5 linked regions of the Homo sapiens genome follow. The protein of the gene in region 1 interacts with the protein of each later gene in a pairwise test. Each region holds a gene or a part of one and is shown in the gene's direction. Other genes may lie near its edges. The genes, in order: ROPN1, AKAP7, XKR3, TSNAXIP1 and KIF9.

Region 1 (6,290 bases):
CTATTGCAACTACTTTTCAAGGCAGTGAAGCTCCTGGGAGTTGTCAAAAGTGCTGCCATATTCTCCTAACCTGGCTCCCTGCCTGAAGCTTCACCATCCTCTCTTCAGCTCATCCACACAGCTGTCAGTCAACGTGTTTCAGAGTCCAACAAAGAGAAATAAATCATATAGTAATTTTTTGAGCATATAATTTAACAAGAGAAGTTCAATATAAAGAATTGTTAATGATGGGATTGGAGTAATGAAGGATTGGCTAATATGTCAGGAGAGATCTAAAATATACAGGAATCACAGATATAAGGGGCAACCACTACCCCTGAGATAGATCACCCAAGGAAGAAACCTTTCCCAGAGCTTGGTGCATAGGGGATGGCCACAGCTGACTGGAGAGCAGAGAAATTGCTGAGGTGCCAGGCAGGCAAAATTTACTCTCTGAAACACCAGAGAAGCCATTCACTAAAAGGTAACTCACTGACAGCACTCTGCTATAGAGCTTCCCAAGAGAGGTGCCAGGGGACACTGCTAGCCATGGAGCACTGATAGCCACTGTGTACTCCAGCAGTTGGGCACTCAAAAGATCACACACTGCATGAAACAGATGCTAGAAAAGCTGTGTGCTACAGGATCCCAGCATAGGAGAAACTACAAGTTCCTGGAGCCTAGCAAGAAGAGCATACCTAAATTCCTAAGAGAAACCTCTTCCTCCTCCAGTCCTTCCAGTGCCCTGTCCTAACAAAGCATATCCTTATGACAGCTGACAAGGGAAAAAATGTTAAAGGACCTAGTTCAATTTTTGTGGAGGAGGCAATACAAGGTGAATTTGGAGCTGAGAGGCAAATATTGATAACCGGACCTAAAGCTAACACTGATTGTGTGACTCTTGTGCTTAAATTTTCTAGTGGTTCCCCATTGCCTTCAACAAAAAGTTCAAAAGCCCAAGCCTTGAGCTATATTTCCAGCCTTAGGCCCAACCACTCCTGCTTTGTCCACTTTAGAGCTCCATAATTACAGTTCCCTGAACTTGTCACGTTTCTGACAACCCCACATCTTTGCCTAAGTCCTTCTACCTACATGAAATTCTCTCCTTACTCTCATAAGTACACATATGCTTACTGAATACCTGCCCTGTACCCGGCTGTCTTCTGAGGGCTTGCAGTACAGCAATGAACAAACCAGGTTTTTCCAAGTCTCAGTTCAGATATCTCAGATATCACCACTCTTTGAAAAGTATTTTCTGACCTCCTTCTAATACCTGCAGATGTTAGATGCCTCATCCAAGAGTTTTTCTTCTGTTTTTCTTCTGTTCTTCTATATCTAGTGCAGGCTTCTTGACACTTATTATACCTTCTTTGAGTCACTGATTTTCCTGTCACTCTCTTCCACTGGACTGTGAGCTCCATGAAGCAGAGTGTGTGACTTATTTATTCATGTATCCCAGTATTCAGCACAATTCCAATAAAACACATAAATTTTGTCAGATTAATGATTTCCTAAGGATCACATAATTAGTCATAAATAGACCCAGGGCCAAAATCCTGGACTCCTGCCTCACAGTCAAGAGTGCTTCTTCACTACAGCTTCATCTGCCCTCTAGATGTTATGCCACAACTAGCTACGAAGGATAGCAGCCCTATGTTTTGCTTTGGAAAAGGCCAGTGCAATGCTGAATATCATCAGGAATGGTAATGGAAACTGAAGAGAAACATAGCCCTAATCTTATATTGGAAACTATAGTGCATTCACCCCCTCAGAGCCCTTGCTTGTAGGTTTTAAATCTCTGACTCACAGGAATGCTATAATGAAATCAGAAGTAGGAAGGACAACTTCTGATTGTCCTTCTGACCTGATTGTCAGCCTGACCAACATGGTGAAAACCCGTCTCTACTAAAAATACAAAAATTAGCCAGGTATGGCAGCACACACCTGTAGTCCCAGCTATTCAGGAGGTTGAGGCAGGAGAATTGCTTGAACCCAAGAGGTGGAAGTTGCAGTGAGCCAAGCTCATGCCACTGCATTCCAGCCTGGGTGACAGAGCAAGACTCCATCTAAAAAAAAAAAAATGTAGGAAGGACAAGTAAAAGATGAAAATGGTGTGGGGTATTATGACACTTACTCTTAATAAAGACTTTCATACTCTTATATAAGACAGGGCTAAGGTGACCCAAGTGTGTACACCAGGTCCCCAAATCAGGGAACCATGTTGCACAACTTTACAGGACATAGTTTACATGCCAGTCTGTAAATGAGCCATGTGTCCCTAGAATTGTGGATGATGATGCGAATGAACACGAGGGAAATCTTTGAAATATGAGCATGGCTTAGATAAACCAAAAGAGGTACCTATTCATTTGTTAAATAATAAACATGTAGAACTCATGCTTTCAAGAGGTAATACTAGCATGATATATAAGCAAGTTTGGGAAATTTGCTAATAAAGCCAAAAACTACTACTCAAAAAAAGGACAAGGTCAAGTAGGACTGCTCTTAGCAATATTGCTGTTGGCATCCAAATGCTGTGTTGACTTGGCCATGGGTTTGTCTCAGGATAGAAAAAGATCCAGGCTTCTGTGAAACACAGTTGAAGAAGGAAAGTTAATACGAATAAGGCAAATTGGGGAGATCTTGAAAGTCAGACAGGGCATAATTTTTATAAGAAAAGAGATGAAGATCCATTAAACGTTTTTCAGAGTTATGTAAAAACATGAGTGGTTAAGAAATTTTATTGGAGGGCAAGATGGCCAACTAGACGCAGACAAGTGGAACAGCTCCCACAGAGGAACTGAGATGACTGGAGTGCTTTTAACATGTCTTCAGAGGGAAGGCACAGACAGTGGACAGAGGGAAGGCACAGAAGCTTGGCTGAAGGGGGAGAAAGCTGGGAACCCCATACAGGCTACCATACACTGAAGCTCATTTTTGAACCACAACAGCTCTGGGGGAACGAGTGAGTTGAACTAGCAAGGAGCAACCTGCTCTCACCAGGGTCCACTGGAACCCTGGAAGGAGGGGACCCCTCAGTCACCACAGAAACTTGAGGTGGCAGGGAGAGCTGCTTAGAGAAGTAGGGCAGCAAGCCAGCTGATGTGGACCCCAGAGAGTTTGGTGTGGGAGTGTTTGTAGTACAGCATGGCCAGGGATGGCCATTCCACTAGGCTCAACTTGCTCCAATAAGAGACTTTAGCTGTAGGGGAACTGTTGGACCTGATCTCTGCAGGGCGGTCTTGTTCATCAGATGGGGCTGGTCTGATCTGAGCACCCCTTGGTCTGCTGGCCTCTTCCAGGCACAAGCCTGGCCATGCCTGCTTACAGGGCAGTCTCAGGTGCCTTGGGGGTCCACACCATAGCTTCTGCACTGGTGGACCATGCCTGATCAGTGGAGAGCTCCAGCAAGGTGGCCCCTATGGCTGCATGCTGCAGCCAGTACTTTCCCTCCCCATACTACAGCTTCCCTGAGCCCACAACAACTACCCACATCACTTTGCTGGCCCATGTCTGCACAGGCAGGTTTTGTTTTACTTGCCCCGCCAGCACACAAGAGTGTAGTCCACCCCTGCTGACCCCCACTGACTGCCACTGCAGACAGAGCCTTGGAGGGTACAGAACCAGCAAGCACCACCCCTGCCAACACCTTCCCTCGTGCTAACACTGTGCAGAGAACAGCAGATCCTCCTCCACCCTAAGCAACCACCCCTGCTTGCAGGACACAGAGAAGTCACCTGGACTTGCACCGGCCAGCACCCCACCCCCATTCAACACCACCTCCAGTGCAACAGCACACACAGTCTCCATCAGGGACCCCTGCTCCCCACAATAGCTGCCTTGCCTCTGCCACTGTGTGGTCATTTCAGGAACTTTTGTATGTCCCTGAGGACTTTGGAAACCATTTTTGTAATAATATTAATAAAAATTATTAATATTTAATTTTAAATTACCTTTTATGATGGAAAGTAAATAATATATATAAAGTACTTAAGGAGACTATAGGCCTTTTTGACTACAACAAATCAGTTTTCAAAGAAAATATGGCTGTCCTTAAGAATATTTTTAAATAAATCACATGAAATTTTTGAAAACTTAAGCATTTGGTAAGTAAAGGGGGAATTTTGGAAACATTATTTAATTTAGTAATTACAATTCTAGATTTTCACAAAATATAAATATCATTTATTTCAAGTATAATTTAAATATTTTGATTTTTTTTTTTTTTTTTTTTTTTTTTGAGACAAGGTCTTGCTCTGTCACCCAGGCTAGAGTACAGCGGTGTGATCTTGGCTCATTGCAACCTCATCCTCCCAACTCAGCCTCCTGAGTAGCTGGGACTATAGGCATGTGCCACCATGCCCGGCTAATTTTTGTATTTTTAGTACAGACAGGGTTTCACCATGTTGCCCAGGCTGGTCTTGAACTGAGCTCAAGTGATCCGCCCACCTCAGCCTCCCAAAGTGTTGGGTTTACTGGCGTGAACCACTGCACCCAGCCAAAAAATATTTTTATAAGACTTTACTGAAGGCCTAGAGTCTCCTTTACTAAATCATTAAATTATTTTCTATTATTTTTTTAGAGGCAAATGTTTATTATTTTTGTAAACAAACAAGTCATTACAAAAGTCCATTAAGTATCAGATTTTGGATATTTGTTTAACATCAAAAGCCAAGAATAAATAAGTCACAAACAAATCAAGTCACAATGGGAAAAAAAGTGAACAAAATCTACTGTTTTCTTAGGGACAAATGATGATGATGATGGTGATGGTGATGATGAAGAAAAATCATATAACTTCTTTGTTAGGAGAAAATAATGTGAAAAATAAGAGAAAATTAAATCAAAAGTAGAGCTAAGTATTTGCAACACATATGCATAAAGATTATCATTGTCACTGATAATAAATGCATTGCAATTAAAGTAATAATCCAACGTACAGGGATTGTTTTAACAAGATGGTTGAAAGGAAAAGCCCTATAAAGGCGTCTCTGGCAGCAGGTGTTATACATAAAACCTTCGGCACAGAAACAATAGGTAATGAAATCTGGAAGTTTACTGACTGTGCCAAACAGTATCCAAATATAATTTCAACTGTTGTAAGTTTGTAAGTGGTTGTACATTTTGTATTACTATAAAAAGTTTACAACCATCAATCTTTCATGGCACACCTGTAGCCCATTCTGCCATGGCCTCTAGTGGGGAGCTCAGCTTTAGAGAGCAATGAAAGGCAGAAGAGGATTGAGTGGTAATATGCATACTACAAACAATATTTGATGATATCCAAGTTTTCTAGGAAGGCCTATGGCACAGTATGAAAAACCCTGGGGAAGTATAGGGTTTAAGCAGATGAAAGAAGAAGGGCACTTCAAGTAAGCCGGCTAGAATTAGCAAAATACTGAGGGGAAGAGAGAAAAGAAGGATAGATTACTGTTAACAGTGGGCGAGACAGTGTTAAGCTTTGGATATATAATTTTTTTTTTTGGAAAGTGGCCAGAGCAGACTGTATAGGAAATTTGTGTTGGTAAAGAGTAGCGGAAAATTTTTAGTTTAGAATTATAGGTACAAATCATAGAAAACCTTGAAAGTCAGGATATGATTGTCATTTTGTGAGCAGTGCTCTCTGACTATAAAAAGCAACTTGGAAGATAGATCTGGACACACTGAACAGGACAGGCCAGAGAATGACCTGAGACAGGGAGACTAGTCAGGAGGCTGCACAATAGGTGATAAGGGGCTGAGCCAGAGACACAGGAGTAGAAATAGAAAGGGATTAATTGAAGACACATTTCAAAGGAAATAGTGGGATTTAGTGAGATTCAGCAGACTGAAGAAAATGGATGACTCTCAGACTTTGAGGCCAAAGGACTGAGAGATTAGTGGTATCATGTTCAGAGAAGAACCTGGGAGAGAGATTTAGTTGGGAGATGGACAATGGATTCTAGTGAAGTGTCCTGGAGGCAATGGGAAGTATGAAATAGAAGCACAAGGCGAGAGGTCAAAGATGGGAAAACAAGTGCAATCCACACAGTTTTGTCGTAGATAAAGCCGTGAAGAGGCTGCGAGCTCTCCAAGAAGAGCAACAGAAAGAATGCTGAAGACCTGAGTTGGGGGAAGATTGCTAACTCTTCCTCAGAGCAAGGAAGGAGGAAGAGGAATTATGGAAGGAGGCAAAGGAGCAATGCTGAGGAAAATAGACACACAAGAATGGCGTATGCTATCAAAGGAAGAGAAAGTCTCAAGAAGGAAAGAATTGTCATGTCTAGCAGGCCACCTCCCATGTCAGACTATGTGTATTCAAATCCTGCCTC
Region 2 (6,847 bases), on another chromosome or scaffold:
TGTCTCCTATATTTATTATTGAAAATTCTTCTGTGCAAAGCAGCTTTCCCATACTACTACTTCTAAAAAGTCATGGTAAATCTTTCTTTCCCTTTAATTTTTAGAGTAAGGAGACTAAGGAATTGCGTACTTGTCACCTTTAATGGTGGCCTACTAGTTTTTCTTCCTCATTTTTTGAGTATTATTATGGGTATATAGATTTTGTATTCAGTATGTTACAATAATTACAGGTGTTATCCTTTTATGATGTCAGATTATCTCCCATTTGCTCAAAGAAAGCTGTTTCTCGCTAGTCCTTGTGTTTTTGATAGTCCCCATTTGTCTTTGCTTTTTGGCACAAGAAGATGTCCAAGGTTCACCTTGTACTTCCCTTTCTCCCTGTCATTTCTAAAAGAAGCTCTGTGAAAAATTCCTTTTTCAGACTTGGGTAATTAAAATGTTCCTCCACATGGTAGGTGTTGATAAGACTCTGTATTCATAATACTGGTGGTGAAAAATATGTGGCATTTGGGCTGTTACCTCTGCTTAGGTAAGAGAATGAAACTTCCATATATCTCTTGGTACACACCACAGGGGAAGAAAAATCTTTCTCCTGCCCATTTAGTTCACTAGGTTGGACTGTGTAAATTAAATTGACAAAAGACAGATTAAGACGAGAAAAGGATTATTACACATGCACATAGATGCTTCACAGGAAAGAACTAAAAGCCCGAAGAGGCAGTTAGAACTGGGGGCTTCTATACCATTTTAACGATGATAAAGTGTGGAGAGGCTAGACAAAGGAAAAGGGGGCTTAGCCTTTTTGCAGTATGGGAAGGTTACTAGAAAATGTATGGGTTTGTTATGCAGGTAAGACTCATTCTCCTCTTTCTGGTATGGGTGAGTGGTAAAGCTTTGTTGTTTGTTTGTTTGTTTGAGACAGGATCTGGCTCTGTTGTCCACACTGGAGTGCAATGGCATCATCTCAGCTCACTGCAACCTCCACCTCCTGGGCTCCAGCGATCCTCCCACCTCAGCCTCTGGAGTAGCTGGGATTACAGGCATGGGTCACCACGTCTGGTTAATTTTTGTATTTTTGGTAGAGACAGGGTTTTGCTATGTTGCCCAGGCTGGTTTCAAACTCCTGGACTCAAGTGATCCACTCGCCTTGACCTCCCAAAGTGTTGGGGTTACAAGCGTGAGCCACTGGGCCCGGCCTGGTAAAGCTTTAAAAATAAAAATTTATGTCACCTTTACGAAGGGAAATTTATGTCCTGCTTTTAGGCAGAAAGGGGGAGGTCAAAGTTGTTCCTGAGTCTTTAGTTTCTGAACTGTTTTAAGCTCAAGAATAATCCTTATGCTGAAGTGGCATATTTGGGGTGGCATATTCTCATCCTCTTCACTATGAATGTGGACCACATTTTTGCAGCTTTTATTTCCGCAGTTACTTATGTTTCTTTCTCTGCTATTATATGATCAGCTCCATAAGTAAAAGACCTGTCTTACCTGCACATCCTCAGCACAGAGCTCAAGCATTAAATAAATATTAGGGGAACTGGTTGTACTTTCCTACCAGCCCATAAATGGGCATCAGAAACTCAACGTGTTAGAATTATTTGAAAATCAGAGTAACTAGTTTGCCGACTTCTAGTGTGCAGCCTTTACGCCAGCTGTTGTGGCTGTGTAGGGGTCTTCTTTTCTTCCATCCCTATTCTACGATGCATTCAACATAAGCGAAGTGTTATTATTCACGAAAGGCGCTAATTTGTGGACGGATGCACCTAATGTTCTTAACCCCTGGTTTCTTCGCACTAAAACCAATCCCAATAGCATTCCGTTTCAAGTGAAAGGTTTTTATTTTTTTAAACTAAGTAAATTTCTTTTTCTCCCAATTTACTCACTGCAGTACCTTATACTACAAGAACCAGCAACTGGTTTCCTCTTAATGTCTAAACATAACATCATTGTTAAAAATTAGAGACTTTGTCACAATTTGCAGTTTTTAAAAGTAAGGTAAATAAAGTATCTCATTATACAGAAGTACAAGGTCTCGTTCTTGTACATTTCGCTCTTCCCAAATATTCTGCAATCAGAACCCTGATTGCAAAACTAAGCACATGGATTCTCAAAAGACACCAGGCCAGAGAATTCTTTCATCCTAGTCCCAATCTCGCCCTTGAAAGCGTGGGAGGGGCAAGGCTGCGCCACGGGAAATAAATGAGGGCTGCCAAAGGCCGTCGGAGGCCGCGGGGCTCGGCAGGCAGGCGAAGACCCAGCGTCGCATTGCAGAGTCGAGACGACCTGGGCTGCCGTGACGCCGCAGTCGCCGGCCCTAGTTTCCCCCGCCCTGCCCGAGCGCGTCCGCGCCTCTCGCCCGAATCCGGGTACCACCGGCGACTCGGGTCGGCCCCTTCTGGCTTGTTCCGGCGTCCGGCCTGGCATGCGGGTGCTGCGGCTGCTGCGGCTGCCGCCGCCGCTGCTGCCGCTGCCGCGGGGGCTGCGGCTTGGGAAGCTCCGCGCTTCCGCAGGCCTGGCCTCCGCCGCCCGGGCCCCCGCAGCCTGTCGCTGGACCCCGCGCCGGCCCAGCGCACCGCCCTCAGGCCCCGAGCCCCGCCCTGGCCTCCGCCTCGGCCTCGCCTCCAGCCCCGGGACGCGGCCCGCCACCGCCGCTGCCGCCAGCCCAGACGCGCCGCCCGCATGCGCCGCGACCATGGAGCGCCCCGAAGCGGGTGAGACCGGGCTGTCCAGCGGGCCGGGGCGGGGGCGACAGGAGCCGCGGGGGCCTGGGCCTGCTCTGCGCTCGAACTTTGGGAGGGCCTGACCCGCGCCGGCCCTTCTCCGAGTCTCCCTCCTTCCCAAAAGGACTCAGGGTAGCACCGAGAAGCCCGGTGCAACCGGGGTGTACATCAGTGCTGCCTGTAGCGAAGCGTTTTAATGCACGCATTGTGGGTCCGACAGGAGGCGGGGGTATGAGCCCATCCCCGAGTTTCACTTTTCTTTCTCCCTTTCTCATCCTGTGACCCTTTGCACAAAGTTCATGCCAGTACACATTCCTTCCGACGGTGTTGATGTGGGTAAATGTAAACAAAACCTAGTAAAATTTCGATTTTATCTTATATCACAAATATTAAGCACCCGAACCACCATACTGTCTCATTTAGGATTTTCTGCCAGGTTTGGACATGACCGCTTTTAAAACTGGCGCCAAGTCTACACTAGCGCCCGGAATGAATTTCCAGTTTAGGTCAGCGTTTGTTGTGAACTGAACTTTGTGATAGAGCGAGTTAGGGGTGGACTTTCGGTAAAAGGGTCCGCAAACCAATTAGAGAAAAGGTGCTCCTCTGCAAGAGTTTCATAGGATAAACTCATAGAAGAGTATAAAAAGCATAAAAACGTTAAAGTGTACTATATAAATAGCAGTTAATCGTGTGAATATGTTGACAATTGTTAAGTGAATGATGACAGTGAGTTTTTGCATTTAGGAAATGCATGGGAATGGAAATTGTTAAGGAGAAAAGAGCCATACTCCAGTTCCTTGTTTAAGTGCCGTGGCTTTGCAATTCAGGATCCTGTTAGCATATCTGTATATTTTCCTTACTCATAAAGTTTAAGATGTTTGTGGAGGTTACTTCCTCCTTTCATCCATTTTCGGACACTATTAACTTGTTTTGTCCATTTCTCCCTAATAATTTGGATTTTACTTTTGTTCCCTTTTTATGAGGAGGAAAGGAAAGCCTGGAGGTCAAGTAACTTGTTGATTTCTACGCAGCTGTCAACATTTACTAACGTGTAAGATGCTAATACTATTTTTAGTAGCTAAGCCAGGACTAGAATGGATGCCCTTAGCCCTTTCCAGTTGTTCTTAGGAATAAACTTATTTATGTATGTACTTATGTATGTATGTATATATGTATATATGTATTTAGAGACAGGGTCTTCCTCTGTTGGCTCAGGTGGAAGTGCACTGGCGCGATCATGGCTCACTGCAGCCTAGATCGGCTGGGATCATGCCAACCTCCTGTTTCAGCCTCCCCAAGTAGCGGGGACTACAGGTCTGTGCCAACATGCCTGACTAATTTTTGTATTTTTTTTTTTGTAGAGACGGGGTCTTGCCATGTCACCAAGGCTTGAACTCCTGGGCTCAAGCAGTCCTTCTCTGAGTGCTGGGATTACACGTGTGAGCCAACTTGCTCAGCTGGGATAAATTTACTATTTACCTAGTAGAGTGATGAGAGACTTACTTCACAAAATTGAGTAGTCATTTATTATCCAGTTAGGAAACCTGCATTTTGTGTGACAGTGGGAGAACTCTCCATACCCTTTTCTCTCTCTTTTTTTTTTTTTTAGAGGCAAGAGTCTCGCTCTGTCGCCCAGGCTGGAGTGCAGTGGCACAATCTCGGCTCACTGCAACCTCCGCCTCCCAGCTTCAAGCGATTCCCCTGCCTCAGCCTCCCGAGTAGCTGGGACTATAGGTGTGTGCCACCACGCCCGGCTAATTTTTTGTATTTTTAGTAGAGATGGGGTTTCACCGTGTTAGTGAGGATGGTCTCTATCTCCTGACTTCGTGATCTACCTGCCTCGGCCTCCCAAAGTGCTGGGATTACAGGTGTGAGCCACCTCACCCGGCCCACCCTGTTGGCCTGTTTTTGATGAAGGCATTTGCTTCACCTGTATTTGAATATTTGCATATATTTAAAGGTATGGTTTTATAATATACTTAAAATGTATGTATTGTTTTTCTTAGGTAATATTCAATTTTGAAACGTTTGAATAGCAGAAATGAGAAACATGAATATATTCAATATAGTTGTCAGCATTTACAAGCAGTTTATACTGTTTAGCCTTTGGCCACATAATTGTAAATCATAGAGCATATGCAATTTTATATCTCCTTTCTAAAAACTTGGCATTTGTTGTTAGCTTTTTTCTGTCATTGCATTCTTCATAGTCATTGTTCGTAGTTGTCATTGTCGCGAGCATGCTTCGTTTAACTGTTTCCCTATTTTTTTCATTGTTTCTATTTCATTGTACCCAGTCACCATCCATGTTCCCCCCACCCGTTCCACCACCCTCCCCAGCCTCTGGTAACCATTCTTCTATTCTCTATCTCCATGAGTTCAAATGTTTTAATTTTAGTTCCCACAAATAAGTGAGAACATAGAAAGTTTGTTTTTCTATGCCTGGCTTATTTCACTTAACATAAGGATCTCCAGTTCCATCCATGTTGCAAATGACAGGATCTTATTCTTTTGTATGGCTGAATAGTACTCCATTGTATATATGTACCATATTTCCTTTTTCCATTGGATAACCTTAGTTATCCAACACTTAAATTGCTTCCAAATCTTGGCTATTGTACCATTTCCTTGTTATTAGGCATTTAAGTTTTGTTCCACTTTTCCTTTTTTGTTTAAATAAAGCTGTGGTGAATCTTTGAGCATGGATGATAGATAACCAGAGAGCAGTAAGAAGAACATCGGAAGAATATTTCTGTGGCTTCTGGTCTATTGCCAGATTGCTTTCTGAAAGGATTGCCTCCGTTTACATTGCTATAGTCAGTGTATAATAAGGTGGCAGTGTGTGGTGCCAGAAAGGGCATAATGGTAATAGAGTGACTGGATTCCAGTTCCAGCCCCAAGACCCACTAGTTTTACCCTTGAGCAAGTACTTATTTAATCAGTTAGTTTGTAAAATGAGCATCATAATAGTACCTCTCCATAGTGTGGTTGTGTGGATTAAATGAGTTCCTCCCAGTGCTTCCAGCTGTGCCTGGCTTCAAGCATGCACTTAAATGTTAGCTGTTGTTAGTAGTAGTAACAGACATATTAATAGTTTACCAGCTTCACCTCATCTTTATGTTATTAATGCATTTGGAAGCATAACTTTTATTTGGATTTATACAAAAGATAGAATTTTAACTATGGTTAGAACAAATTGTAGGAGACTTTTAAGTACTCAACCCAATGAACTTAAAAGAGTTTAAATGCTTTAAGAGTTGGTTATTTTAAGGCAGTTTTCCAAAAGCAAAATATTTATACCTTCTATAAGAGAAAGTGTAGTTATGACTGGTGTATTTAATTCACATCTACCAACCTTTGCCCAAACACTAGAGCTTAGAGAACTGGAGGAAGTGTTCTAAATATTTGGTTTGAGAAACATTGTTCTATAGAATGACCAGCAGTTCTTTCAAGACTTATTTGAAAGTGGCACTCCTTTTTTTTGAGTTAATAATTCCTATCTCAAAAATTGTTGAGTTAATAATTCCTATTATTCTATAGCTTAAGAGAAGATAGTTGTTTGTATTTCAAGTTCTAGACTCCTGTGGATTTTGATGTAACATTGCATTTGAGTTTAATATGCTTTATTTAGCAAGGTAAAGAATGATGTTGAACAAGTTATATTATGCTTTAATTTTTATTTTCATGTCAAATGGGATACTAGTACTTTTCCTTTATTCATCTGGTGAAAATGAGAGAATCTGTGTTGTGCTGAGGCTGCCACTAAATACCAGGAATTATTTTTCATGGGCAGTGAGATAGCTGTATTGCATTGTAGCTATCTACACTAGCTACTAGTGACTTACTAACCACTCTCAAATGTGGACTTACCTTTATCACATTTATTCATTCAGTAAAAATTTATTGAGCACCTATTGTGAGCTGAACTCAGTGCTAGGCATGGAGGAATCAAAGGAGAATAAGACAAGGCTTTTAAGGAACTTCGACTATGGTGACGACACATGATGGAGTGCAGTTATAGGAAGTTGTCCCTTTCACTTTCAAAAGTGTCCTGGTTTGGTGAATTGTATGGTCACTTTACCTTAGAATCTAATGGATAAGACAGATAAACGGACATGTATAACATAAAG
Region 3 (6,290 bases), on another chromosome or scaffold:
CTTTTCTATTATTTATTTATTTTTTTAATTTCCTATTATGGCCTTTGTTGGTTTCTTAGCTGTTACTGTTACTTTAGTTCTTGCTTTGAGGTTTGTAGTGTACATCTCAAATTTACCACAACCTACCTTGAAGAGGTATTACACTTCTCTATGGACAATGTTAAAACACTAAAATAACATGTACCATTATCCCCTCTCAGCCTCTGTGCTACATGCATTTTTAAAATTATATAACCACAATATTTTATTATTTCAACAGTCAATTGCATTTTTCAAAGATTTGATTAAAGAAAAAAGTCTAAAATTAACATACAAAATTGCCATTTTCAGTTTTTGTCATTTTATAAGATCTATTATATCTTTGTGGCACCTATCACAGCCATTTGATAAATTAATTTGTAGATACAGTAAGAATGTCATGTATTTATTAAAGTTTTTAATAGTGATTTTAAAATTTCTTATTAGGTGGCAAAAAATAATAAAAATAAATGCCCAGAACGAGTATGTTATAAAACTAAACTGTAACTCCATGTAACAGCTATAGCATAGTTTGTTTGAACTGAAATTCACATAAAATAATCATATTGAAGTCCAAAAAATTTAAAGATGTAGTGTAAATTCAATTTATATGAAATTGAAGCACGAGGTTTCCTAGATACCTGCTGCCTACAGAGTTAGAATCTAATTCTTCTGATTATTCTTGTAACAAAATCTTTTGAAATTCTAAATTCTGATGCAGAACGTATCAGTGAAACTCCCTCCCACTGTCTCTTGTATTAGCATCAAGGAAGCGAGAAAAAATAAGGTAAAAAAAAATTCTGCTGTGTTTATTTTTTTACCTTCGAAATCTTGCTGAGTATTACTGTTCAACAAATGAAAAAAAAAATTCTCATCAGTTGTACCTGTTTATTGCCAATATACCTGGAAAGCAAATTCACTTTGTGTACAAAGTTGCAGCTGTTTCCAGGTACTTGAAACACAGTAACCAATAAAAATACTCCTTATAATTAGGCTCCTGATTTTTGAGATGCTTTGTTTATCTTCTATAGTACTCTTAAGATAATCTGTTAGAATTATTTTAAGTATTCTTTCTATTGATATTTTTCTTAAGTTTGGCTGTACTGTCATAATAGAGCTTTCTAGAAGGAAAGCAAGTAAAGTTGCTTAACAGCTTTGATATATACATTTTTTCAGTTAAGGTCAATGCTATCATAGAAAATTACATTTTATTTTTAAATTGTGGGTTGAAAGTCTGATTTGTGACTCTTAAACATGAAGATATTGCTTAATATTATTAGTCTTAAATTTGAGCATCAGATAACATCAGAGTTGAAGACTTAACTCTAACATCTTTGTATAATATTTCCATTTACTTGAAATCTATGTCAGTCATATATCTTGTTTGTCTTAGTCATAATTGTTTTATGGATGATAATAGTTTGTGTTTTAGTTTTCAAATGGGAAAAAGGGTATTCTATCACAAAAGAGGGGTATTCATGAAGGAGTTATAACTTACAAGAGATCGTGAAACAGTCATCCTATTTCTAGCATCTGTTAGGTTTGCTTTCTCATCTATAACTGTGCATGACATTTCAGGGGTAACATCAAATCTTTTTTAAAAAATGAATATATTATTTACCTGTCATCACAATTATTTCCTGATTACTCTGTCATTTCTTAGATATTATGCAACTGTTTTTTTGTTAAGTAAGCATAGTAAGTGATTGAATGAAAGAATGGTCTCTGTATTGTGTACTGGAGATGGAGACTATGTATGTCAACAAGATGGCGTACTAGGAAGTGTCAGGCCTTCATGCCTTCACAGAGTCAGTGAATTAATAACAATATTTGGACCACAATACCTTTGTGAGAGCTCCAGAGACCAGTTGAGAAGCTGCAGCACCCAGGTCCATGTTAAATATGAAGGAATCCAGCAAAAGGAGTATGAACATTCATGTCATTTTACTTGTCAGTAGATCTGTTTCCATCTCCCTGTGTTGCATAGTGTGGCAGAAACAGGAGGAACACTTCCCTGCCAAGACTCCTCACTCAGTTTAACTCCCTGGGATTCTTCCAATTATACCTGCTAATAGTCTATTTCATTTTTATTGCTGAGTAGCAACCCATGGTATAAATGTACCACAGCTTGTTTGAACATTCACAATTGAAGAACACAAGGGATGTTCTTAGTTGAGTTGCCTTATACCTTCATGTACAGTTTTTTTGCGTAAGTTTTATTTTCTGTAGGATAACTGCACTGAGTTGCAAGGTTGTCTGACAGCTGCATGGCAAACAGTTTTGGACTGACCCTACCATTTTACATGCCACCAAACAACGCATGAGTGGCTTGTTATTTCTACATCTTCACCAGCATTTGGTGTTGTCATTACTTGTTAAAATTGTAGGTGTTTTAATAGATGCAGTGATGTAGCTAGTAATGTTCAGTGACTTTTTGTGCATTTATTTCCCATGCTTATATCCTTCTTAATGAAATGTCTTTGTACCCTTTGTTCATTAGCTAATTAATTTTTACCTAGGTATAGTAATTGGGTACACATTTCATATATGCTTTCTTCCATCTGCACATTGGCTTTCTAGTCTCTTCATAAGTTATTTCACAGAGCAGAAGTTTTAAGTTTTGATTTGATCTAATTTATCAGATTTTTTTCATGGCTTGTATTTTTGGTATCAAATCCAATAACTCTTTGCCACGCCTAAGAGGGTTGAATTTTCTTTATTATTTTTTAAAGTTTCCTAAAAAGTGTTAGAATTTCAGATTGCATTGAAGTTCATGAACCATTTTGCATTAATTTCTGTAGGGTGAGTTTTATGTTAAGGCTATTTTTCCTTAACCTATGGATGTCCACTTGCCCTAGCACAATTTGTTAAAAGGTTATTTTTCCTCCACTGATTTGTGTTTGCCAGCTTTGTGAGATATTGCATCATATTCAAATCAGTGTGACTCTATTTCTGGGCTTCCTTTTCTACATTTTTTATGAATCTATCCCTAGGCAAATACCACACTGTCATGATTACTTTGGCTGTGTAATAAGTCTTTAAAACATTGTTGACAGATTCCTCCCATTATATACTTCTTTTTCAAAATTGTCTTAGCTATCCAAGGATGTAAGTTTGCTTTATCTCAAAAAATCCTTTTTGAGATTTTGATAGGAATTGCATCAAATATATAGATCAAGCTGGGGAAGATTAACACAACATATTGAGTCTTCCAATACATTAACACAATGTATCCTTCTTTATTACTACTTTGATTTCTTTCACCAGTGTTTTATATGTTTCAGCATACAGAGCCAGCCCATACCTGTTTTTTTTTAATGTATATCAGAGCATATCACATTTTTTGGAGCAGTTGTGGATGATTCTGTTGCAAATTTGGGGTCCTCCTGACCTGTAGCATAGGGAAATAGCAGATTGCTGACTAGTTTAGATTCATTTCAACTGTTCAGAGGATAGGGGGTTGGGTGGTGGTAGATGCTTAACTCCCCAGTGGAGCCCACTGACAGAATAGGGTAGGGTAGTGGAAAGAGCAGTCAAGAAGCACAGTGCAATCATCTCTACTTAGATCTGGCTCTTTAACCACTATTGTTGTTGGGTGGACCTGGGTGCTCAGCTTGCTATTGGACTCTGCTGACACTGGTTAGGGAATTGGAATTGGAATGCTGTCCTCTGTTTTAGCTGGTTGGGAAATAGAAGATTAGCTGCCTCCTCTGACTTTAGAGGGAATCAGAGCATCACTGACCTGGGAGAAGCTTGTCTCTGTACATGGCTGCAGAGAAACTGAAGTAGTAGTTTTTTTTCTGTGGTGTTCGTCTGGAGTAGTTTGGTTATTCTCCATAGAACGGTTTTGTGTAGTTGTTTGTAGTTAGGTTATCCTCTCCTGGTCCTTGGGCTGCGAGAGAACAGGATTTTCTTGAAGCTCTTTTTGTCTGTGCCTATTGGAGATTCAGAATTGGAAACTTCTATAGTCCATTATGTGGGATACATGGAAGGCAATAAGAAAACCCAGTATCTTTACCATAGTATCACTCTTCAAGTCCTGAAATCCCTAGACAAGACCTTTCAGAGTCTGTCTTTGTTTCTTGTCATTATGTCCGTGGTGTTTTAGTTGTTCAGAGGAAACACTGGGGTGTTGCATTGTACCTGGAAGTCCTAGGAAGTCAAAGTTTGAGGAAGGCTTTAAAGTACAAAGCAAACCAAATCTCATAAAGCAAAACATGGGGAGGTATGATTGCAGAGAATGAAATGATATGATTTACCTATAATAAAGTGATTTTATAGAATAAACTTTTCACCAAAATTAATCTCGAAGAAGTTTTATAATATATGTGAAAAAGCCAATGATTTATAGCATATAAATAATATAGGTCAATGAAGAACAGATGAAATACCTGCCATACACTTTGGAAAAAAAATAAAGTTGGCAGTGCTTCCAGAAAATATTATCAAAAATATGTTCTTTTTCAACTGCAGAAGGGATATAGTAATAATGGCTTTTCATAGGTTTTATTTGTTAAGTAACAAATAATTCAATTGAAATCAAGCACTTGTTTCTAGTTCTCTGGGGCAATGTGAGCAGTTGCAAAACCAAATATTATGAAAACCAAAGATTAAAAGTGTAATATAATATTCTTTTTAAAAAAATAAAAATGGCTGTCAAGAAAGAAAACATCTGTGAGATTTGAACTCCAATATCACTAATTTGGGATAAACTGGATAGTTCATTGAAATAGTCAACTGAGGAGTAAATGTGGATATATTCCCAGGGAAGAGACCATTTCTGAGTCCAGTGGGGTTTGGCTTCCTGCCTAAATAATTTGTTAAAGAAAGTGTTGTTTAGACATTTAGCTGGAATATTTGAGCCAATATAGAAAGCCATTGACCACAGATACTAGGATCTAACACAGAATGAGGTTTTTATTCAAAGCCATGAGGGGAAAGTTCATATCTCAACCTCCATCCTATGTGATATTCAAGACTGAGGTCAGATTTTTTATATTACGTACAAGATATAACTACCTCAAAAGCAGAAACTGATTGGTGGACGTTCGATGCCCTAAGAAACAGCCAAAAAAGACACACTAAGGGGAACACTCAAGGATAAAAAGTTGAATTTAAAGATTCTTCATAATAAGTAGGTTTTGGTGTTCTCTGAGATGAATAAATGGAATCTAAAGGCAAAACAGGTGAGTAGGAGGACAAAAATAAATTTTTTAAATAGAGAATTATATCTCATTGAAAAATGAACCATATAGTAAAAAGTCAAACAAATTTTTGTTTCTTTGTTTCTTGTATAGTAGATTCAGCACAAATATAGTAAGAATAAGTAATTTTCTAAGTGGATCTGAAAGTAAGTTTGCCAGTTGTGGGGGAAAATACATAAATGTAAATGTCACATTTCATTTTGAAATTTGATAGTTTGCTGACAAACAACATATAATTTATTTTTGGTATGAGTCTCTTCCTTGCAATATTGAGAATATAATTATACTAAAATGCTATTTATTGTTTATTTAAAATGAAAATGCAACTGGGAATTCCATGTTATATCTGATGACCATACATGAAAGATAAGTTAATAAAAATTGAGCTCAGAGTAGACAACTTTCATATTAAATTACAAGATACACCAGAAGGAAAACATGTATAGAAGGGCCAAAAGGCAGAATATGAAAATAAATTCTACACTGGATATTATTCCACATAAGTTGTCATTTAATAAAAATACATTTTTCAACTCACAAAGATTAAGCAAATATTAAAGACTTAGTGAAAGCCAAAGGAAAAGAAGTATAAAACCTATTATTTTTATTTTTTAGCAGGGACAAAAACAAATATCAAAATTAAAATGGTACGTAGGAATTTGTGTGGGTTTTTTTTTGTGGGGGCTAGAAATACATTTTACATTTTTAGGAAAAAAATATCAACTAACTGGGCCCTTTTGATTAGCTACAGAAAGTGTAGAAATATGGTAGTTAATGTCAAAACCAGGAAAAATGAATATTTTTTCAAAAAAATGAATAACTACAGAAAGTGTAAAAATATGGTAATTAATGTCAAAAGCAGGAAAAAATAAATTTCTGCAAGAAAAATAATACAATTAGAAAAAAAGGTTCAGGGTAGGGAGAGGGATTGAACAACAGGCTGAAAGAGAGGCGGCAAAGGCAGAGACAGAAAATCTTGGGTAAATAAAAAGATATCTAATCAGATATTATGTAGATAAGAGAGTAATCATATTAGATGTAAATGCTTCCAAATTATGTGTTAAAATA
Region 4 (6,290 bases), on another chromosome or scaffold:
CATGTTGGCCAGGCTGGTCTCAAATTCCTGACCTCAAGTGATCTGCCCACCTTGGCCTCAAAGTGCTAAAAGTCGCACATCTTGGCCTCCCAAACTGCTGGGATTACGGGCATGAGCCACTGTGCCCGGCCAGAATAGCTAATCTTTACTGAGTTCCTAGCAAGTACCAGGGTCCATGTGAAGCACACATTATGCTTTCCCTCTTTTTTTTTTTTTTTTTTTGAGACAGAGTTTTGTTCTTGTTGTCCAGGCTGGAGTGCAATGGTGCAATCTCAGCTCACCGCAACCTCCGCTTCCCGGGTTCAAGGGATTCTCCTGCCTCAGCCTCCTGAGTAGCTGGGACTATAAGCACATGCCACCACACCTGGCTAAATTTTTTTTTTTTTTTTTTTTTTGAGACTGAGTCTCGCTCTGTCGCCAGGCTGGAGTGCAGTGGCGCAATCTTGGCTCACTGCAAACTCCGCCTCCTGGGTTCATGCCATTCTCCTGCCTCAGCCTCCAGAGTAGCTGGGACTACAGGTGTCCGACACCACGCCCGGCTAATTTTTTGTATTTTTAGTAGAGACGGGGTTTCACTGTGTTAACCAGGATGGTCTCGATCTCCTGACCTCGTGATCCATCCGCCTTGGCCTTGCAAAGTGCTGGGATTACAGGCGTGAGCCACCATGCCCGGCCTAATTTTTTTTTGTATTTTTAGTAGAGACGGGGTTTCACCGTGTTAGCCAGGATAGTCTCGATCTCCTGACCTCGTGATCCACCCACCTCAGCCTCCGAAAGTGCTGGGAATTACAGGCGTGAGCCACCGCGCCCGACTATGCTTTCTCACTGCATCCTCACATCAATACACTGTGACAAAGACTACCATCATCCCTATTTTACAGACGTGAGAACTAAGGCTCAGAGAAGTTGTGACATAGCTAATAAGGGACATTTGAGACTTAACCCGAGTCTTCTCTAACTCAAGAACCCACAGTCTTAATTATGAACCATGTTGAGAGATGTTTGTAAAACACATCAGGGCTGGCCAGGCACAGTGGTTCACGCCTGTAATCCCAGCACTTTGGGAGGCCAAAGTGGGTGGATCACGAGGTTAAGAGTTCAAGACCAGCCTGGCCAAGATGGTGAAACCACGTCTCTACTAAAAATACAAAAATTAGATGGGTGTGGTGGTGGGTGCTTGTAATCTCAACTATTCGGGAGGCTGAGGCAGAGAACAGCTTGAACCTGGGAGGCGAAGGTTGCAGTGAGCCAAGATCGTGCCACCACACTCCAGCCTGGGCAACAGAGCAAGACTGTCTCAAAAAAAAAAAGTCAGGACTGGGGGAGGAGAGATGGAGAGAAACATTAGGAAGGGGAGCAATGTTGCCATGGCAACCCCACCTGTACCTCCCTGCAGACTGGTCAGTTCTCCATGGGTGGGCACCTGTCCCCATGGCCCACATACACCAGTGGCCAGACCATTTTGCAAAATCGAAAACCCTGTTCAGATGACTACCGGAAGCGAGTAGGGTAAGCCAGGGTCAGTCCCATGGTGGGTGAGCTGGCATGGGCCAGGCTTTGGGCCAGGAGACAGGGCAGGGGCGTGTGTTGCCCCAGACTGAGGGCACAAGGGCCCCGTGGGGGTGCTGGCCACATATCAGCCACTGTCCCCTGCAGGAGCTGCCAGCAGCACCCCTTTCGCACTGCCAAGCCCCAGTACTTGGAGGAACTGGAAAACTACCTACGCAAGGAGCTCCTCCTGCTGGACCTGGGCACAGATTCCACCCAGGAACTAAGGCTGCAGGTCAGAGCCACAGAAGAAACTTGGGGAGGGCGGGGGAAGGGTGGGAAGAAGCTTCACCTACCGGCCGGGCACAGTGGCTCACGCCTGTAATCTCAGCACTTTGGGAGGCCAAGGCGGGTGGACCACCTGAGGTCAGGAGTTCAAGACCAGCCTGGCCAACATGGCGAAACCCCGTCTCTACTAAAAGTACAAAAATTAGCCAGGCATGGTAGTGGGCACCTGTAGTCCCAGCTACTCAGGAGGCTGAGGCAGGAGAATCGCTTGAACCCTGAACCCGGGAGGCAGCGGTTGCAGTGAGACAAGATCACACCACTGCACTCCAACCTGGGCGACAAGAGTGAGACTCCGTCTCAAAAACAAAAAAAAGCCTCACCTACAAGGACTGAGCACCTCAGACCTTCAGGGGAGACCCACCTCTCCCAGCTCTCCTGGGTCTCCTTCCCTGAACAGAAGCATGAAACATCCCATGAAAATGCCAGTGAGGCCGGGCACAGTGGCTCATGCCTGTAATCCCAGCACTTCGGGAGGCTGAGGCAGGAGGATCGCTTGAGGTCAGGAGTTCAAGACCAGCCTGGTCAACATGGTGAAACCCTGCCTCTACTAAAAATACAAAACCTGCAGTGGTGGTACACACCTGTAGTCCCAGCTACTCAGGAGGCTGAGGCAGGAGAATTGCTTGAACCCAGGCGGCAGAGGTTGCAGTGAGCCGAGATCATGCCACTGCACTACAGCCTGGGCAACAGAGTGAGACTCTGTCAACAGAAAAAAGAAGGCCAGGCACGGTGGCTCACACCTGTAATCCCAGCAGTTTGGGAGGCCGAGGCAGGCGGATCACCAGGTCAGGAGATCGAGACCATCCTGGCTAACATGGTGAAACCCCGTCTCTACTAAAAATACAAAAAAATTAGCCAGGTGTGGTGGCAGGCACCTGTAGTCCCAGCTGCTCGGGAGGCTGAGGCAGGAGAATGGCATGAACCTGGGAGGCGGAGCTTGCAGTGAGCCAAGTTCACGCCACTGCACTCCAGCCTGGGCAACAGAGTGAGACTCCATCTCAAAAAAAAAAAAAAAAAAAGAAAACGCCAGTGAGCAGGCAAGGCTGCAATGTGGATCCAAAAGTCTCCTGAGGCTGGAGTTTCCTCACCTGAGTCAGGTGGCCTGGATGCTGTGCCCAGTCCCTGCAGCTCTGTGATCCCCAGTACCCAGGTTGGGCCACTGGACATCAGTGAACGTAGCCTGAATGCTGGCAGTTGGGCAAGCAGGGGTCACACCGTGTTTACCAGTCCAGTGGCAACAACCCCAAGCTTAAGGAACCAGCACAGATGCATAAGGAGGGAGGGAGGAAGAGAGAGAGAGAGAGAGAGAGAGATCAGATCCAACCCAGATACCAGTGTATAGTAGGGAGAGAATCACCAAATCTGCTTAAACAAGGATGATGACAGAGAATCCCTGCCTTTTGACTTAGTCATTGACTAAAGCATTTACTGAGCACTGGCTATGTGCAAGTGCAAGGCCCTGGGCTGGGGCCTTACATCGATCTCCTGAACAGATAAGGAAGAAAGCATACCACTATGGCGTAGTGGGGCTGGGCTTCAAACTCAGGGCTGACTCTGGAGACTGTGCTCATTTCAGTGAGCAATGCTGCCTCCAGAAACCTCCCATGTGTCCAAATGGGACAGAAGACCACACCCCTACTTGCATGTCAGGATGCAAGGGTACAACCTTCAATCTCCTGAATCTACCAGGCTCTAAGATGGGGAGAGGTTACAAGTGAGAGGCCAATGATGCAGTGTCTAGAAGGCAAGAGGCTGGCTGCCTGGAGAGCCAGAGAGGGGCTCAGGCACAGAGTGGATGTCTGTCTATGGTCATGGCAGTCCACTAGGCCTCAGAGACAGCATCAGGACAGGCCTCCAGAGAGCTGCCCCCCAGGCTCCGTGGCACTGTGAGGTACCCGGGTGGTATCTAGGGCATTTACTTGAATATAAGTGACCTGGCAGCCTCATGCTGGAATACTGCTAAGCCCAGTAAAGAAAAAAACAGTGCCAGGCACAGTGGCTCACACCTGTAATCCCAGCACTCTGGGAGGCCGAGGTGGGTGGATCACGAGGTCAGGAGATCGAGACCATCCAGGCCAACATGGTGAAACCTCATCTCTACTAAAAATACAAAAATTAGCCAGGTGTGGTGGCGCGTGCCTGTAATCCCAGCTACTCAGGAGGCTGAGGCAGGAGAATCACTTGAACCTGGGAGGCAGAGGTTGCAGTGAGCTGAGATTGCACCACAGCACTCCAGCCTGGGTGATGGAGCGACACTCCGTCTCAGGAAAAAAGAAAAAGAAAAACAGTTCCCCACTAAGGTTGGCAGCTGTGGGCTAGGAGATGATGGGTTCCCTTTTCTTGCCAGCCTTACAGAGAGATCTTTGAGTTCTTCATAGAGGACTTCAAAACGTACAAGCCATTACTATCCTCCATCAAGAATGCGTATGAGGGGATGCTGGGTAAGAATGCACCTCCTGCCAGGCGTAGTGGCTCACGCCTGTAATCCCAGCACTTTAGGAGGCCGAGGCGGTAGATCACTTGAGGTCAGGAGTTTGAGACCAGCCTGGCCAACATGGTGAAACCCTGTCTCTAGTAAAAACACAAAAAAATTAGCTGCGCATGGTGGCACACACCTGTAATCCCAGCTACTTGGGAGACTGAGGCAGGAGAATTGCTTGAACCTAGGAGGTGGAGGTTGCAGTGAGTTGAGATCACACCACCGCACTCCAGCCTGGGCAAAAGAACAAGACTCCATCGCAAAAAAAAAAAAAAAAAAAGAATGCAGCTCCCCTCCTTGTCCCAGCCTGGAAGGGGTGGAGAAGATCCTATTCGACCTTCTGGTGCTCCACAGCAGGGCTGGGGCAGCTACCAACTGGGCCTTGAGGTCACCAAGGCCCCTCAGCCATTCTGCACAGACTGTTCCATGATAGGGCACCCCAGAGCACCTGACAACACCTGTCATTGAGAAGCACAGGGGGGCAGTCCCTGTTGAAAATGGAGTGAACCCCAGGAGAGAGTCAGCACCTCTGGGAGTCAGCAGGCTCCCCTGCCAGGCTCAGGAGGTGCAGGGCATGGTGCAGCTGCAGGACTTAAGGCTGTAGGGGAAAGGACATAGGAGAGACCCCGGTCTTCATCTGAACTCTGCCCTTTGTTTAAAATCAAGTGCAGGAAGGCCTGAAACAGGGACCATGGCTTTGAACAAGGCATGCAGAGATTCTTGGGGTTTGCAAGCGACATAGCCACTCACCCATGACCTTAGGGTGTCTTCTGGCTGTTTGTTCTCCATGGCCCCAAAGCAGCTCTCCCACCTGTCTCTGCTTAGCCCACCAAAGGGAGAAGATTCGGGCTCTGGAGCCCCTGAAGGCCAAGCTTGTCACTGTGAATGAGGACTGCAATGAGAGGATCCTGGCCATGAGAGCTGAGGAGAAATATGAAATCTCCCTGCTCAAGAAAGAGAAGATGAACTTGCTAAAACTCATCGACAAAAAGAATGAGGAGAAGATTTCATTGCAGAGCGAGGTGAATGGAAGTGGTGTGATGATGACCAAGTCCCCGAATTCCTGCCAACTCCACGACAAGGGTGACCCCCTACCCTGCTCTGCCTTTCTACGGAGAGTGACACACTGAGCCACCACCTTCCCCCAGAGCCTTGCTAACTCCACCCTCTGCCCTGCTGCTAGGCTCAGTACTTTCCCCACAGGGGGAAACATTGGCACCTTGCCGAATTCTCAGAAATGGCCAATCTCCTTCTTCTTTCACCTTTCCTGTTCACAGTCCCTGATGGGGCCCCCCAGAACCCAGCCCACTCCCTGGGGTGACCAGCTGCATACAGGGGTCCAGGGGCAGCCCCTGACCACACAGCCACCTTCTTGCCAGGTGACCAAACTGAGGAAGAACTTGGCTGAGGAGTACCTGCACTACCTCAGTGAGCGAGATGCCTGTAAGATCCTCATCGCAGACCTGAATGAGCTGCGGTACCAGCGGGAGGACATGTCATTAGCCCAGTCGCCAGGTAAGCCTGAATTGGGAATCGGGTTTCTCTCTTCTCTGAGACGCTGGAAGACTCTGGTCTCACCCCTAAGCCCCATTCATTCAGCATTCCTAAGACCTGCTCATTCCATAACCATTCAGAGGGGAGATGTCCCTGCCTCCCGCAGGGCTGTGTATCTTCTGAGTTGAACTGAGAATTGTAGGAACACAGTTGGTAGCTGAGGCAGCCTAGGCTCCCAGTGGGCTGGACAGGCCTGGTACTCAGTTTCCTGGGCTTCTAGACTTTAGCCTGAAACCCTAGGCTGGTAGTGCTGTGGGCAAGAACCAGGGAACCCCAAACAGGAAGGGCAGAGGGCTTCAGGCAACCCCTGAGAAAGCCACGGTGACACGGGCTGGTGGGCCCCTTCCCCTGGCAGGCATCTGGGGGGAGGACCCTGTGAAGTTAACCCTGGCTCTTAAGATGACCCGGCAAGACCTGACCC
Region 5 (6,290 bases), about 77 Mb from region 1:
TTCAGATAGTGCTGAAAAAAAAAAGGAACAAAAAAGAATTTTATTTCCTCTTCCTTTCCTGTTACGTAAATAAAAAGAAAAAATGATTCATGCATAATCTGTTTTTTACATAAGGCAACAATAATGTATATTTTAGCTCATTTCCTTCCAGTCTTTTTTCCTGTGCAGCTTTTTCTTTACATAGTTGAAATGATTCTTATGTCCCTTTTTTCAGTTAAATTATGAGCTCTTGTATGGAAAAAAATAAGGCCGGGTGCAGTGGGTGATGCCTGTAATCCTAGCACTTTGGGAGGCTGAGGTGGGTGGATCACCTGAGATCAGGAGTTTGAGACCAGCCTGGCCAACATAGTGAAACCCCATCTCTACTAAAAATACAAAAAATAAGCTGGGTGTGGTGGCGGGTGCCTGTAATCCCAGCTACTAGGGAGGCTGAGGCAGGAGAATCACTTGAACCCGGGAGGCACTGGTTGCAGTGAGCCAAGATCGTACCATTGCACTCCAACCTGGGCAACAAGAGCAAAACTCCTTCTCAAAAAAAAAAAAGAAAAGAAAAAGAGAAAAATAAGAATTAGCATCCTTACTATACAAAAGCTCTTAGAGCCAGGTGCGGTGGCTCATGCCTGTAATCCCAGCACTTTGAGAGGCTGAGGTGGGTGGATCACCTGAGGTCAGGAGTTCGAGACCAGCTTAGCCAACATGGTGAAACCTCATCTCCACTAACAATACAAAAATTAGGCTGGGCACGGTGGCTCATGCCTGTAATCCCAACACTTTGGGAGGCGGAGGCAGGCGGATCACAAGATCAGGAGATTGAGACCATCCTGGCCAACATGGTGAAACCCCGTCTCTACTACAAATACAAAAATTAGCTGGATGTGGTGGCGCTAACTCCCAACTACTCAGGAGGCTTAGGCAGGAGAATAGCTTGAACCCGGGAGGCAGAGGTTGCAGTGAGCTGAGATTGTGCCACTGCACTCCAGCCTGGCGACAGAGGGAGACTCCATCTCAAAAAAAAAAAAAAAAAAAAAAAAAATTAGCTGGGAGTGGTGGTGGGCACCTGTAATCCCAGCTACTCGGGGGGCTGAGGCAGGAGAATTGCTTGAACCCAGGAGGCAGAGGCTGCAGTGAGCTGAGATTAAGCCATTGCACTCCAGCCTGGGCAATAGAGTAAGACTCCATCTCAAAAAAATAAAATAAAGGCTCTTAGAAACCAGTCAAATGCACTGGCACAGTGGCTCACGCCTGTAATTCCAGCACTTTGGGAGGCCAAGGCGGGTGGATCACTTGAGCTCATGAGTTCAAGACCAGCCTGGGCAACACAGTGAAACCCCACCTCTACCAAAAATACAAAAATTAGCCAGGCATGGGGGCGCATGCCTGTGGTCCCAGCTGCTTGGGAAGCTGAGGTGGGAGAATCACTTGAGCCCAGCAGGTAGAGGTTTCAGTAAGCTGAGATCATGCCACTGCACTCCAACCTGGGTAATAGAGCAACACTCTGTCTCAAAAACAAGAAAAGAAATCAGTCAAGTGTATGTTATTCTTTTAGAAGTCATATAGGCTAGGAACTCTTTATTTTTTTATGCAAGTTCTCGCTGTGTTGCCCAGGCAATGGGCACATGTGCAATGGCTATTCACAGGCATGATCATAGTGCCTTCTCACAACATAGCAACTTACTTCCTCAACGTCAATAGCAGGATCTTTTTTAAAGGGCCAGAAAGACAAGGCAAGGCCAGGCGCGGTGTCTCACACCTGTAATCCCAGAGCTTTGGGAGGCCGGGGCAGGCGGATCACTGGAAGTCAGGAGTTCGAGACCAGCCTGGCCAACATGGTGAAACCCCCTCTCTATTAAAAATACAAAAAAAGAAAGACAAGGCAAGAGGGTACTTCAGAAGGGGGACTGAAGAGTAAAGGTGAATGACCTGCTGTGGTGGCTCATGCCTGTAATCCCAGCACTTTGGGAGGCTAAGGCAGGAGGATTGCTTGAGCTCAGGAGTTTAAGACCAGTCTGAGCAACATGGCGAAACCCTGTCTCTACAAAAAAATATAAAAAATTAGCCTGGCATGGTGGCCTGTACCTGTGATTTTAGCTACCTGGGAGGCTGAGGTAGGAGGATCACTTGAGCCCGGGAGGCAGAAGTTGCAGTGAGCCAACATCACGCCACTGCACTTCAGCCTGGGCAACAGAGTGAGAATGATCTCAAAAAAAAAAAAAAAAAGAAGAAGAAAAATGAAGTGACCCCTTATATTCTTGGTGAGTGTCACTGGATTTGTAGAACAGGCCTGACCATAGACTATAGCCTCACTACTATAAGCTATAGAGGTATGGCCACAGGAGTCTGCTAGGCTTGCTCCACAGCCTCAGGCCTTCCCTCTTCAGCGGGTGCTCTCCTCTCCCCAGGGGGGGCTGTCCCCCACCCTCACTTTGGGGCTTGTTCATAGCACTTCTCATCAGCATTTAAGGAGACATCAGTCTATCCCTCAAGGACCTTTTTCTCCAAGAACAGCCATTTCCACCACACCACCACCCTGTCTCTACAAAAAATTCCTTTTTAAGTATATTCTGGTCATAAGGCCTCCTCCTGTAAATTAGAGGTAAGGGCCTACTGTCCCTTTAAAAATACAAATTACTAGGTCAGGCACAGTGGCTCATGCCTGTAATCCCAGCACTGTAGCAGGCCGAGGCGGGCAGATCTCTTGAACTCATAAGTTCCAGACCAGCCTGGGCACATGGTGAAACCCTGTCTCTACAAAAAATACAAAAATTAGCCAGGTGTGGTAGTGCACGCTGGTAGTCCCAGCTACTCAGGAAGCCGAGGTGGGAGGATGGCTTGGGCCCGGGAGGCAGAGGTTATAGTGAGCCGAGATCGTGCCACCACACTCTAGTATGGGTGACAGACTGAGATGCTCTCCCAAAAAAAAAAAAAAAAAGGAGAACACAAAATAAATAAAAATATAAATTATTATTTTTATAGTAATACATGCTCACTAAAAAAAACCCACAAAACTGTATAAAAAAGATAAAATAACCTATAAACCCCAACCCAGAAGCAACTATTATTAACATCTTATTAGCAGAATTCTGCTTATTTCTTCTATGAATGCTTTTGCATTTCTTAGATCAGCTATAATATGATTTTGGATTCTACATTTCTCTCTGTTATTAAAAACTATGTGTCAGCATTTTCCTGGCTGCCCAATATCCCACTGTATACATAGATCATTCCCAAATTGTTGGACATGCAGGTTGATTCTGATTCAATATTCATAAACATTTTTAAGGCTCTTGATTTTTATTGTCACTTTGCTTTCCAGAAAGCTATACCAATTCACACTTCCCCAGCGGCGGGTGAAAGTGTAGATGTGGACTCCAATTTGACTCCCTTTCTATTAGTTTATAAAAGAGGTTTGCCTGGAAGGCCCAGCTGATCGCAGTGATATGAGACCACTTGTGTAGCTATTGGTATAATTGAAAAATGACCCAAGTGCCTTGTCGTTTTAGTTTTTCGAAATGTTGCCTATGATTCCCTTCCTCTTCAGGGTGAGACCAACAGGATTATAGCCTCCCACACTATGAACAAAAACTCTTCCAGATCACACTGCATTTTCACCATCTACTTAGAGGTAGGTGCAAGCTCTTTGATCAGCCCAGGCGGGGCAGTCAATTCCCACGGGGCCTGCTCAGTCAGAAACTTCTCCCTGTGACAGTCTAACTTCTGCTTGGATGTTTTGTAGGCCCATTCCCGGACCTTATCAGAGGAAAAGTACATCACTTCCAAAATTAACTTGGTGGATCTGGCAGGCTCAGAGAGGCTGGGGAAGTCTGGGGTAAGTGATGGGGGCTGGAGGTTGCTACTCAATAAACCACAAGCCCTTTTTCTGGCACAGTGCCTGCACATCTGGGCCATGACTCATTGGATATTTGTGAACACAGTCCTGAGCTAGGCGAAGTGGGACATGTGGGCTTGCTGGAGGGACAGGATTTGCAAAAAGGGAACGGCTATTACCTGGGGGCGGTTCCTACCTCAGAGGATTTTTGTAAACATTAAATGAGATAGTGCCCTCTACATTCTTAGCAAAGTGCCTGGCACTCAGTGCTCAGTAAATATTCCTTGCTGGTATAGCATTTCTCTGTGTGTGTTTTTGTTGTTGTTGTTTTGAGACACAGTCTCGCCGTGTCTCCCAGGCTGGGGTACAGTAGCACAAATACAGCTCACTGCAGCCTTGACCTCCCAGGCTCAAGTGATCATCCCACTTCAGTGTCTCAAGTATCTGGGACCACAGGTATGCACCACCATGACCAGCTAATTTTTAAATTTTTTTGTAGAGACGGGGTCTCGCTATGTTGCCAAGGCTGAACTTGAACTCCTGGGCTCAAGCGATCCTCCTGCTTTGGCCTCCCAAAGTGCTGGGATTACAAGTGTGAGCCACCACACCTGGCTTCTTTGTGAATGAATATGAGTATTCGTATGAGTATTTGCATGAGTATTTCAAATAAATATTTGTATGAGTGTATTAGCAGAAGTATTAACAAGAGTATTCAGATGAGCATTTGTATGTGCATTCATGAGTGTTTGTGTGAATATTCACAGGATTCTTTGCTCAAATATCTAGACAAGTATTTCAGTACATATTCATATTAGTGTGAATCTTTGAGTGAATGTCCATATGAATATTCATGTAAGCATTCACATTCGCATGAGTATTCACATGAGTGTTCACATGAATATTTCTGAGTTTTGGTATTACCATTATTAGCCCAAGATGGAATACAATCGCATGACATTGAAAGAAGACCCTGGTTCTGGGAAGGAGGCGCTGACCTGACCACAGACTTATAGCATTTCTCCAGACCAGGAAGACTGCTATTCTTAGTGGGGCAGCTGCTTTATTCCATCCAAAGTGGAACTGACCTTTGCTTTGTAGTCTGAGGGCCAAGTCCTGAAGGAAGCCACCTACATCAACAAATCGCTCTCATTCCTGGAGCAGGCCATCATTGCCCTTGGGGACCAGAAGCGGGACCACATCCCCTTTCGGCAGTGCAAGCTCACCCACGCTCTGAAGGACTCGTTAGGTGAGGGGGTACAGTTGCTGCCCAGGGAGGAGGGTCTGTGTCTTTGGGGAGGGACAGGTTTGGCACATCTGCCACTGGTGATGATAGAATTGCTCCCTCCTGGTGGCATGGATTCACCTGCAGCACATTCACAGTGACTTCAGACACCTGGAAAGGCAGAATCAAGCACTGTGCCCAGAACACACTATGCTATTCACTCCTCAGAACCTTCCTTAGGCTTTTTACCTGTGCTAGGAATACCTTCTCTTTTCCTCTTGTCCTGAGGAGACAGCTGGCAGAATCCTTCACAGCCTGAAGACTTGGGGCGAGGGCCTCTCTCCCATGGTGTCTTCCCTTCCCCTGCAGCCTCCTGTACAGAGCAGCGGGGGCTTTGTCTTATCATCCCCATAGCCCTAGGCCTTTGTGTTGAGCCTGACAACACAGTCACTAGTGTCTGATTGTTAACTGAGTGCCACCCTGAGCAAAGCTCCAACTCATACCTCCCTCTCCTGTCCCTGCCCCTCCCTGCCCTGTATCATCTCTCCTCTGCTGTTTTCTCCTGGATCCTCTTTTAGGTACATGTGGTGGCCTCTCTTTCTCTCTTCCCCTTACCTCCCAGCCTCACAGATGTGTGTGTCCTCTCTGACCCTGTCTCAGTTCAGGCTGCTATAAGAAAATACCATAAACTAAGTGGCTTAAACAATAGACATTTATTTCACATAGTTCTGGAGACTGGAAGGTTCAAGATTCAAGTGCCAGCAGATTCAATGCCTAGCGAGGGCCCTCCTCCTGGCTTGCAGATGGCTACCTTCTCGCGTATCCTCACATGGAAAGAAAGAGAGGGTTCTGGTCTCTTTCCTTATAAGGACACTAACCCCATCATGGGGGCCCCACCCTCTGACTTCAACTAAACCAAATTACCTCCCCCTCCCCAAGTCCTCCATCCAGATGCCATCACGTCGGGGTTACAACTTCAACATATGAATTTTATAAGGACAAAAACATTCAGTCTTGACCAGGTGTGGTGGCTCACACCTGTAATCCCAGCATTTTGGGAGGCTGAGACAGGAGGATCGCTTGAGGCCAGGAGTTCAAGACCAGCCTGGGCAACATAGCAAGACCTCATCTCTACTAAAAACAAAAAAAATTAGCCAGGTGTGGTAGTGTGCACCTGTGGTGCGAGCTACTTGGGAGGCTGAGGCAAGAGGATCACTTGAGCCCAGGAGACTGAGGCTGCAG

What was found.
Region 2: the proteins of ROPN1 (region 1) and AKAP7 interact in a two-hybrid assay, tested with the Homo sapiens proteins (2 studies listed by BioGRID).
Region 3: the proteins of ROPN1 (region 1) and XKR3 interact in a two-hybrid assay, tested with the Homo sapiens proteins (one large-scale study listed by BioGRID).
Region 4: the proteins of ROPN1 (region 1) and TSNAXIP1 interact in a two-hybrid assay, tested with the Homo sapiens proteins (one large-scale study listed by BioGRID).
Region 5: the proteins of ROPN1 (region 1) and KIF9 interact in a two-hybrid assay, tested with the Homo sapiens proteins (one large-scale study listed by BioGRID).

Annotation. Positions count from the first base shown.
Region 1 is NC_000003.12:123,983,922-123,990,211, reverse strand, and holds part of ROPN1 (ropporin-1A), read left to right. Parts: intron 1-6,290. UniProt on the Homo sapiens protein: Important for male fertility. With ROPN1L, involved in fibrous sheath integrity and sperm motility, plays a role in PKA-dependent signaling processes required for spermatozoa capacitation.
Region 2 is NC_000006.12:131,133,075-131,139,921, forward strand, and holds the start of AKAP7 (A-kinase anchoring protein 7), read left to right. Parts: upstream 1-2,392; 5' UTR 2,393-2,419; coding exon of another isoform or gene 2,420-2,689; coding exon 2,690-2,708; intron 2,709-2,795; exon of another isoform or gene 2,796-3,768; intron 3,769-4,077; exon of another isoform or gene 4,078-4,628; coding exon of another isoform or gene 4,629-4,677; intron 4,678-6,847. UniProt on the Homo sapiens protein: Probably targets cAMP-dependent protein kinase (PKA) to the cellular membrane or cytoskeletal structures.
Region 3 is NC_000022.11:16,816,122-16,822,411, reverse strand, and holds part of XKR3 (XK-related protein 3), read left to right. Parts: intron 1-712; exon of another isoform or gene 713-805; intron 806-6,290.
Region 4 is NC_000016.10:67,819,443-67,825,732, forward strand, and holds part of TSNAXIP1 (translin-associated factor X-interacting protein 1), read left to right. Parts: intron 1-1,396; coding exon 1,397-1,509; intron 1,510-1,656; coding exon 1,657-1,783; intron 1,784-4,183; coding exon 4,184-4,277; intron 4,278-5,140; coding exon 5,141-5,337; intron 5,338-5,694; coding exon 5,695-5,830; intron 5,831-6,224; coding exon 6,225-6,290. UniProt on the Homo sapiens protein: Possible role in spermatogenesis.
Region 5 is NC_000003.12:47,264,512-47,270,801, reverse strand, and holds part of KIF9 (kinesin-like protein KIF9), read left to right. Parts: intron 1-3,538; coding exon 3,539-3,622; intron 3,623-3,733; coding exon 3,734-3,826; intron 3,827-4,924; coding exon 4,925-5,072; intron 5,073-6,290. UniProt on the Homo sapiens protein: Essential for normal male fertility and for progressive motility of spermatozoa.